Linked DNA regions of Homo sapiens: region 2 is linked to region 1. A link means that fine-mapping ties the variant in region 1 to the expression of a gene that starts in the linked region. Tissue or cell type: whole blood. Region 1 holds a variant in brackets; the other region holds the start of a gene. All regions are shown on one strand. Distances are from middle to middle.

The links. PIP is the estimated chance that this variant, and not a neighbour inherited with it, causes the effect.
Region 2: it holds the start of TDRP, and the variant in region 1 is fine-mapped to the expression of TDRP in whole blood (TOPMed, PIP 0.92).

The regions. Positions count from the first base shown.
Region 1 is chr8:594,076-599,295 of GRCh38, reverse strand. No RefSeq gene overlaps it. Among named protein-coding and RNA genes, the nearest start is that of TDRP, 52 kb to the right of the region's middle. The variant T/C (reference allele first, on the strand shown) is at 2,593.
Region 2 is chr8:542,089-547,308 of GRCh38, reverse strand. TDRP (testis development related protein) reads left to right here and starts at 2,475. Exons shown (of 3, transcript NM_001384899.1): 1 at 2,475-2,659. The coding sequence starts at 2,552. RefSeq lists an enhancer at 996-1,496.

The DNA.
Region 1 (5,220 bases):
CCCCAAGCTTTGTGGCACCAGGGACCAGTTTCATGGAAGACAATTTTTCTATGGACCTGGTGGTGGGGGGATGCTTTCAGGATGATTCAAGCACATTATCTTTATTGTGTACTTTATTTCTATTATTATTACATTATAATATAATTATACAAGTCATCTCATGTAGAATCAGTGGGAACTCTGAGCTTGTTTTTCTGCAACTAGAGGGTCCCATCTGAGGGTGATGAGAGACAGTGACAGATCATCAGGCATTAGGTTCTCATAAGGAGCATGCAACTTAGATCCTTCCTGTGCACAGTTCACAATAGGGTTTGTGCTCCCATGAGAATCTAATGCCACCACTACTCTGAGAGGAGAGAGCTCAACTGGTAACATGGGCAATGGGGAACAGCTGGAAATACAGATGAAGCTTTGTTCACTCACCTGTCACTCACCTGCTGTGTGGCCCAGTTCCTTACAGGCAACAGACCAGTACTGGTCCATGACCCGGGGGTTGGGGATCCCCGATCTGATGTCCCCTGCAGTGCTCTGATCAGTGGAACTGGCTTGGTGACAGAGACAGTTGTACAGAGGCACTTAAAAATATCCAAATAGAGAATAAAGCATTTCTCATCACTTGTGGTTAAAAGTGGCTGTTTCCAGGTGATAGGTTGTTTGGCTTGGAAGAGAGTCTGGTACCCAGCCCAGGCCTTCCCGTGGGACCTTCAGGAGAGAGAAGGCCCCATCCCAGAGTGTGCCTCATTGAACAAGGATTTTGAGGAATGGCAGCTGCAGGAGAAGCTCTAAGAAGTCGCCCTTTTGGAAGGGGAATTTACCTCTGTGAAGGAATCTCTACCTGCCGGGTGTCTCCTCTGGGATCCAGGAAGAAGAGGGAAACTCAGTTACAAGAGACACTTGTTGAGGAGAAAGCTCTATTACAAGCCCACAGCAAGTTGTGGCCTTGGTCACCTGCCTTTCTGGTCACCTCCCCGTTGCCGGCCACCCCCATCTTCTTTCTTTATTTTAGTTGAAGATAAGCTAGGGTTCTGGGCCACCTCCTGCAGATTTGTGCGTCTTCCCCTGGAGTTTGCCACCCACGCATGAGGTGTGTGGATTAATAAACTTCTGTTTTTCTCTTGTTCATCTGCCATGGGTTACAGGCGTCCAGTTTTTCTTCTCCTACAGGGAAACAATTTGCTCCACTGGGAAGAGGGGAAAAGGCCACAGAAAGGCAAGTTGACCAGAAGACCCCTCACAGCGTCCCCTTATCATCACCTCCTCTGCCTCTAGGGAAGTCTTGGGGGCTGGTGGTGCATTGGCTAGGTGCAGAGGCAATGGCTACAGGCTGGGACCACTGTGGAAGCCCCCAGACTGAAGCCCCACTGCCTGATCTCATCATCCTTTGCATCACTCTGTGACCTATGACTTTGACCCTCTCTCCTAACTGGCCTGGCCTGGTGGGAGCAGGAGCCACTTATTTAGGTCTAAGGACTGCAAGCTCTAGGGCTTTGCAGATGCAGGCAGATTTGGGGCCTGAGCAGGGGCAGGAATGAACTTGGAACATAACCCTCAGAAGTTCTGAGGTAGTCCTGGCCATGGGGTCCATGCAAGGACTACATCCCGCAGCTTTCCGCTTTCCAGTCTGCCGTCAGTGCCCACACATGGTTCAGGAGGTGGAAATCATGAGATGACACCGTGTCTGTGCACGCGGCTCTGGTTCTGCTCAAGGCTTATAGTATTGCTCATGGAAACAGAGGATGCTGGAAACGAGGGTCTGGTTTTGCAGCAGAACCACAGCATCTGGGGGCGAGTGTGGGGGCTCAGGCCGTGTCCAACCAGCTGGCCCCTGTAGCAGGCCCTCCCTAGCCTCTAGCCTCTGGGGACTTTAGGACCTAATGGAAACTTTTCTTGACACAGCTCTAAGTTGGTCAGCTCAGTCTCTTTCTGCAATTCCCAAATTGCAGTCTGTGTGTAGTGAAAACTACCAGCAAAATAAAAAGCAACGTGTCCTCTACTCATAATTATTTTTTAAAATAAAATTTCAGAAACTGATTATTGAAATTTTATAAGCTGCATCTGCTTCAAATTCCAGTTAAGCCCAGTAGCCCTGCTCTGTTTTACACATCAACACCCAAATTATTTGTTGCTATTTAAAACGTAACTTTCTACATATTTTTAAGGCTTTACTTGTAAATTTTATTGCACTTGTATATGTAAAATTCTTAAACGGCTAAGAGCAGGTACTACACTTGGTCTTGGCCAAAAGGGCAAGAATCACTGCTTGCAAAGCTTTTAAGAGCCAGCATTACTGCCTGGTTTGTGGTGAAAGCGGCTTCCTTATTCCACCCTCGGTCCTTGCGGCTGTCACTCTGTCTCTTGGTGTTTGCCTCCTGTGAAAGAACATGCTTGTGTCTCATGTTTATTTTGGGGCTCATCTATTGATTTCCTTCAATGATGGGGGAGGAGCTAACCTTTCTGCTAAGCACATGCATGCACCCACAATCTCTGCACCCCCTTCTCCTCCAATGCGATAGCCACACTCTGTGGCGACCTCAGTATTCCAGGTTGCCATCCTGTGATCACGCAGAGCTTATTCTCAGCTGAGCTGTGTAA[T/C]TGTAAAATGATTAAGTTTCCCTTCATGCACTCCGTTTCCTCTGGGGTTAGAAGCTGTTGCATTTTAGTTGTTATTTCCTTAGACTTCTAGGAAGGGACCACTGTTCTAGCCACATACTTCCTAACGGAAATAAGAAAGACCCTTGGACGATCAGGCACATCGAAGGTCCAGCCATGGCGTCCCTGAGGCCCCCACTGCCTCAGCTCCTAAGGCTCTGGCCACATTTCCCTGTGTCTCCCTGCTCCTCACCTTCAGGGCTGCCTGAGTTACCCTGTGTGGAAGGAACCCTTTGAGACCTGCAATGTCTGGAGACGTCGCCATTCTCTCCTTGACCTTTTCTTTCTGGGACCAGGATTCTAGGCTGCAAGAAATGTCTCTCAGAACTGAGAAGGCTTCACTTCCCGCCCTGCAGACTCCAGCGTTCTGTAGGGAGGTCTCAGCCATTCCAGTTCTGCCACGAGAGTGCTGGGGCCTGTGGCTCTGGCCCCTGGGCTGCTGGTGAGCTCTGCCTGAAGTGTCTCAGCAATGAGGATGTGGATGACACAGGTGTTTTTACTCTGTTCTTTCATGCATGCGCTACTCTCTCAATCTGGGCTCCTGTCTGCAGTTCTGGACCACTTGTTTGAGTTATTTCTTTGCTGGTCTCTCCTGTCTGACCTCTCTGGTCTCTCTTCTCATTAAGTGGGTATTGGAATTTCTGGGTTGATTCTCTATTTCTTTTTTCATTCCTCCCTAATTCTTCATCTGTGCATCTTTTTATTCTGTTTCTGTGAGATGTAAATGAGTCTAATATTCAACATTTCTATTAAATTATTTATGTCTATTCTACTTTTAATTGAAAGATTCTGTGTGTAGTTTTGCGGTGTCTGCTCTTATTTCACGGCCACCCTGTTTCTCTGCGAATATCATAGGTTTGTCTGCGTCCTACTCCCTCCATCCACTCGGCTTCCTCCAGGTTTCTCTCTGGGTCTGTGTCATGTTAGGGTCTCCCTGGGTCTCTGGCCTGCATCCTCCACACAGACCCCCCACCCCAACCCACTCACATGCAGGAAGCAGCCACATGTGCTTCCAATGGGAGTGGATGGTGTGTGGGGAGGAGATGCAGCCGGGCTCTTTCCCATAGAGGTTTCCTCCAGTCATCTGCATCCCTCTCCTGAAGGCCTTGCTGGGCATCCCTGCTGTCCTGTGGCCTTCCTGGGTTCCACTAACTGCTCAGGCATGTCCTTCAAGACTGGAGTTTGTGCTGGTGGCAGGGCACTGCAGCTCTCCCATGGTATTCCAAGACTGCCTGCACGTTTGCCATTAGTTCTTTTTTGATTATTGCTTTTCAATAGCAGTTCCTTAATTAAACTTTTCTCGATTTACCAAGCTTGAGCGTGTCATGGATTTCCTGCTGGGACCCTGGCTGATAACAGCTCTGCAGCCAAGTGCCCAACAGCTCTGCAGCCAAGGCCCAACAGCTGTAGGAGGCGTATGGGGGCTTGCTTACGAGTGGCCCTCACCTCACAGCAGTGGAGATGGCCCAGTTCTTCCACTGGGGACTCCTAAGTCCAAAGACTGCATTTGTAGATTTTCCCTCCACAGCCAAGAGAGAGGTCCTTTAATTCTTTGACCTCCTGCCTGGGGGTATGAGCCTGGCCTTTGACATTCTGGGAGCTTGGAAGGTGGGTGAGGTATCCCACTCTCCACAGGGGGGCTCCACTCACCCCTCTCAGCAAGGTGTCCTCCACCCTCACTGCCCAGCTGCCCCTGCATGCCTGAGGTGCCTCACAATCACCCGGGCTCCTTGACACCCCTGACTTCTGAGGTTTCCTGAGTCTGGCGCAGATCCCCTGGGTGGTAGCTGGGCTTCCCTGTTCCTGCTTTACCTGAGATTGCTCAGTCCTCCCTCCTGGCCGAGTCTTCCTGTCTTCTCCTCTCTGAGCTTTGTTTTTATGCCTTTTCAATCACTTTATTGCCCTTTTGATTGACAGGTGAAGGAGCAAAGATGGGAGGTCTCTGTCTCTCCATCCTTAGCCCTGCTTTGCTTTAGAGCAAAGATATTGTTGGTTAAAAAAAAAAAAAGCCCTTATCCTTGAGTGATGACCCCCCAGTGTTTAGGAGCAGACGTAGAGAGAAGAGCAGCTTGAGTCTGAGCCACCCAAGGGGTGGACAAATGGACTGGGGAAGGCATCAGGAGCTCCTTGCACGAGGTCCTCTTGTTGTTCTTGTTCCTGTCACTCTTGGCTGACGAAGAACCAAGAAGGAGACTTCCATGATGACCCCGGAGAGAACCACAGTGACTGGCAGGAGGCAGGGGAGGTGAACAGGCCCTTCTCACCAGGGACCCTTGCCTGGCCTCACAGGTCCGAGCCTGCTCCCACGACCAGGTCAGCCAGAGGTGTTTACATGAGAGGGAGAGTGAGGAACACCAGTTTCCGAGGTCCCGGCTGACCTTGACGGTGAGCAGAGGAAGGTTCTCAGGGCCTCAGTGGCCCTTGGAGAACCTGCACTCTAGGGCTCATAGGAGGCACCGCTCTCTTGGAGGCCATGGTGGTGATGAAATGCTGCTTCAGGGGCCTTCTCAGCAACCCATGCCAGTGCCAGGCCTGTGTGGAGGAAGAAGGGAGAGAATGATGAAGGTGAAA
Region 2 (5,220 bases), 52 kb after region 1:
AATAGCATGACTTAATTATATAAAACTCATAGAGGAGCTAATGAATGAACTGAGTCAAATTCATAGTACTCGGGAAAGTTCTTCTCAAAATTCCAGAAATGCCTGCTGCTCCGTAACAGCCGTTTCACCGGCTTCTCCCACCCAACCCCCTTCCCTCTCATTTGTGCCAGGCCTTTAGGTTGTAGATATCCTGACTAGCTGTGCTCTTCTTCAGAAGAAAGCTAAATGTCTAAAATATTCAGTAAGTTAGCTTTTTTATTTAGCAAGGCTCACCTTCTTCCAGATTGTCATAGATTTGCAGGGGATTACAGTTTAATGACAATTCATGGAGTGGATGTTGCTAGACTGAGAGGAAGCCAGCTGTCTGGGCATAAGCCCTGTGTTCCTTCGCATTAGCCAGGGGGATTTGTGTTATTTGTCCAAGTGTTCTGAGTTGGTTTTCTGTGTTTTATTTGTAGCGTCTTTATATGGGCTGTGTTTGGATCCTGACTTTGTTTTGCAACCTCTGTTTGATAGTTTTTGACTTTCATCAGTTTGTGCTTGCAATGTGCTTATTTTGACAGCACCCCGGAGCCACACCATGCCATCTTGCATTTGCAATTTTCTAAGCCCCCTAGCCCAGGAGGCCAGGCCTATTAGGCCTTGTTTGAAAAGGAGCATATATACATTTTTAACATTCTTATTATTTGCGTGAAGATGAACTCTCAAATTTAGTTTGTACTGGGTGGAGTGGTCCTTAGTAGGCGCCAGTGTTTAATTCTATTTCGTGATGTTTGCGGCCGGTAGGTTTAGCGGTCACCGGGGGAGGGAGGCATGTGGGAGGGGTGCTGCCCTCCTCTCTGGGTGACGGTATAGTTAGGTTAGTATCGTTAGGTTATTATCTGGCTCTTCCCACTCGGCTGGGGGCTCCTGCCAGGCCCAGCCCCCGCCCTCCCTGTGCGTCCCGCGCCAGGGCCCCAGGTCCCCCCAGGCCTTGGGCACGGGCGCCACCCCCTCGGTTCTCCGGGATCCTGGCCGGCATCTCCCAAAGGCAGTTCAGAGCCCCTTTCATCTTAAAAGCTTTGCTGCTCATCACTTCTGGGAAACTCAAAATGTACATTTCATTTTTTTAAGAGTCGTAAAGTTACGAAGCTTGCAGTTTTCAAGGGAGCTCATAGTTCTGGATCCTCCTTCAAAATGCGCTTTTACATGACTGAACACATGAATACATATTTGGTGTAAGAAGCGATACGAAGCGCGTCGCGGGAAAAATTAACCTGCTGGGCGGGAGCGGACGCCTAGAATCCCCCGTTCCCGCGGCTCCGTCCCGGGATCGGGGGTCGCCTCGCCGGCTCCTTTCGGCCTGGGAACCAGGCGGTTCTGCCCTCAGGAATCTGTGGGCGCCTCTCCCGCTCCTGATTCTGACAAAGCCATAGCCACGCGGGAAAACGTTCTCCGGGCCCTGAGCCCCAACCTGGGCGCCGCGGGGGTCCCAAGGGTTCTGCGCGGCCCGGCACCACGGCCCCATCCCCGCCCCCCACCGCCGTCAGTCCGGGCCGAGCCCGCGGCGCCCCAGGCCCCAGCGGCCCCACCGCCCACCAGGGCTGGGCGAGGCTTCCTCCCGGCGCCCCCACTATCCCGCGACCTCGGGCGCCGGAGGGGATGAGTCCCGGATGCCCGGCGCCCAGGCCCCGAGGGATGCCCTGAAGCGCTGGGGTACAGGCGCCGCTCCGCGGACTGTGCCCCCTCCACCTTCCCCTCAGCCTTGCCGCGGCCTGAGCGCCAGCGGCGCGCATGCGCACTGCGCTCCCGGCCGTTGCCTTGGTGACCCGAGCGGACGTGGCCACGCCCTCCGGCCAGGGTCTGGGAAAGGGTGGGGGGAGGGGGCAGTCCGGGAGTAAGTGGGGGTCGGCGGGGGAGAAGGAGAGAACCGGGAGAGGGGAATTTGCGGGGGCCGGGTGGGGGCTCGGGGGTAGAGGAGGACCCAGGGAACCGGGGATAGGGCAGGGCTAGGGGCTCGGTGGGGGCTCAGGATGGGGGCGTTTCCGGGTGAGGAAGCAGCTAGGGGCGGGTAGGTGGGGGTCAAGGTGGGGGGACCAGGTGACGGGGTAGCCTGGGGTGAGGACGTCGTTCAGTAGAACAGTGAAGGGCGAGGGTCTCGCCGGGGCGGTGGCGGGGACCACACTGGGAGGAGGGGGCCGGGGTTGACCTTTCTGTGGGGGATGGGATTCGGAGCCCCGTCGAATTTGGGGGTGGGTCTGGTCCTGGGGAAGGTTTGGGGGCGGGTCTGGTCTTCGGAAGGGTTTGGGGCGGGCCTGGTCCTGAGGAGGGCTTGGAGCGGGCCTGGTTCTGGGGATGGTTTGGGGGCGGGCCGGGTCCTGGGGAGGGTTTGGGGCGGGCCTGGTGGGGAGGGGGCGGGCCTAGTTCTGGGGGTGCCCCGCCCCCGCCTAGCCCCGCCCGGCCCACTGGGCCCGCGTCCCGCAGGAGCCGCAGGCAGAGCGTCCGGCGGCCGGGAGGGACGCGGAGCCACAGCCCGACGCACGGACGGAGGGACGCCGGAGCCCGCCTGACCATGTGGAAGCTGGGCCGGGGCCGAGTGCTGCTGGACGAGCCCCCCGAGGAGGAGGACGGCCTGCGTGGGGGGCCGCCACCGGCCGCCGCCGCCGCCGCCCAGGCGCAGGTGAGGGGGTGCGCAGGTGGGGAGTGCTAGTAGGCCGGGGGCGCGCAGGTGGAGGGCGAGGGTGGGCGGCGCGCAGGTGGAGGTGCGGGTAGTTGGGGGCACAGTTTGGGCGGGCAGGTGAGGTTGGGGCCGCGTAGCTCCGGGGCGCGGCCCGCTAGGTGCCCGAGTGCGGAGTCGGAGAACTTGACCCGAGGCTCGTCCTGGGCTGAGTTGCCGCTGTGGTCCGCGTGGACCCACTCCCCGCTTAACTGGCCAGGGCTGCCGGCGTTCTCGCCGCTTGCAGGGGACCCAGTGCCCCCTGCACGTGTTACTCGGGGCGCAGTCCCAGGAGAGCGGGGACGCAGTGCGCGCACCCCGCGGCGCGGGCGTCGTGGGCCCGGGACGCAGAGGTCCACGCCGGGTGCTCGCGTCCCGGGTGGAGCTGGCGGAGAAGGCCTGAATCATCGCGCATCCGGACGGCCTCCTCGCGGACACTAAGCAGCTTTGGACGACCGTAGCTCAATGTTAAGTGGGCTAAATGTTTGTTTGCATAACAAGTATTTTCTTAAATTCTTGATTTTTCTGAAGGAAGCCGGCAGAAGTCCTTTGTACTGAAAACTGAAAGGCCTTTACCTGACGAGTGTAGAGATATGTTTGGTATGTCTAGAATTTTGTAATTGAAAGGGCTCCCAGGTGGGCCCTGTGTGCCTTAGACGTGCCCTCCCCCACCCCCTCCCCCCCCCTCCCTTTTTCCATTGCAGTGCTCTTTTTCATGTACAATGAAATTTAGGTCAGAAATCCAGCATTCTGGATCATAAAATATCTCTTTCTGTTAAACGTGTGGCAACTTCCTCCTGATGCTGTTAAGGCCGAATGGAATATAAGGATTTGTACCTGTCTTCCGAGGACTTGGAAATAGTTTCTGAGCAGAAGAGTTTCTCTTAGGGTCTGGAGTTGTTTCTTCTTGATAGAGATTTTCTATGAACGTTAAATTCCATTCCTAACTCATGGAAAATGGAGCCGATTATGTTAAGCGCTTAAATATGGTTACTATCTGAACTTGTCTGAGAAATTTCTTTTAGGTAGCGTTAGTGCTTACGTGCCTTTTTTTTTTTTAATTTCAGAATGTTATAGTTACTCTAAACAGCTCTCTTCTTGAATGTAATGATGAGAATTTATATGTGGCTACAGAGTTAACTGCAGAAGCTACAAATAACTAATATTGGTCAAAGATGAGCCATATTATTGTTTCTGGATAGAGCCTTGAGAATTTTAAACTGAGTCTTCCTATGTTCTCCCATTTTTCCTAATGAATCCTGAAACCCACTTTTTTTTCTTAAGTTTTTATTTTTTATTTTGAGACAGGGTCTTGCCCCGTTTACTAGGCTGGAGTGCAGTGGCGCAATCTCGGCTCACTACGGCCTCAACCTGCCTGGGCTCAAGCTATTCTCCTCTCTCAGCCTCTGTAGTAGCTGGGACTACAAGTGCGCACCACCTCACCTGGCTAATTTTAAAAAACCGTTTTTGTGGAAATGGGGTCTTGCTATGTTGTCCAGGCAGATCTGAAACTCCTGGGCTCACGTGATCCGCCCGCCTCAGCCTCCCAAGGTACTAGGATCACAGGCGTGAGTCACCACGCCTGGCCTTAAGTTCTTACTTTGAAAAATTTCTAACATGCGGAAAAGTAGAAGAATAGGAGATTCTTCCTCGTATCCTCCAGCTAGATTCAATTGCTGGCAGTGCCTTCGTTAAAGCTCCTTTTCTGATTTTCCCTTTACACAATTGTCATCTATACTTTTTTTTTTTTTTTTTTGAGATGAAGTTTCGCTCTTGTCGCCCAGGGTGGGGTGCAGTGGCGTGATCTCAGCTCACTGCACCCTCCCGGGTTCAAGTGATTCTCCTGCCTCAGCCTCTTGAGTAGCTGGGATTACGAGCATGTGTCACCACGCCTGGCTAATTTTGTATTTTTAGTAGAGACAGAGTTGTCCATGTTGGTCAGGCTGGTCTCGAACTCATGATCTCAGGTGATCTGCCCTCCTCGGCCTTCTGAAGTGCTGGGATTACAGGCGTGAGCCACCGCGCCTGGCCTGTTATCTGTACATCTAAAGTGTGTGTTGGTTTTGGGGGGAAAAAACTTTAATAGACTCTATTTTTCAGGTATCCAGTTTTAGGTGCCCAGCAAATTTGAGGAGAAAGTACAGAGAGTTCTCATGGATCCCCAGCCCCCCACTATCATCACCCCCACAGAATGGTGCGTTTGTTACAATCTGTGGACCTACACGGGCTCATGGTCCTCACCTGGGAGGGCTCACTCGTTGTGCATTCTGTGGTTTGGACAAATGTGTACTGACGTTTGCCCACCATTGTAGTGTCACACACAGGAGTTTTGCTGCCTTAGAGACCCTCTGTGCACCCTCCCTCCCCGGAACCCCTGGCAAACATTGATCTTTGTACTGTCGCCATAGTTTTCCAGAATGTCATTTGGTTGCATTCACAGTGTGTAGCTTTTTCAGGTAGGTTTCTCTCACTTAGAAAGATGCATTTAAGGTTCCTGCATTTCTTTTCACGGCTTGTAGCTCGTT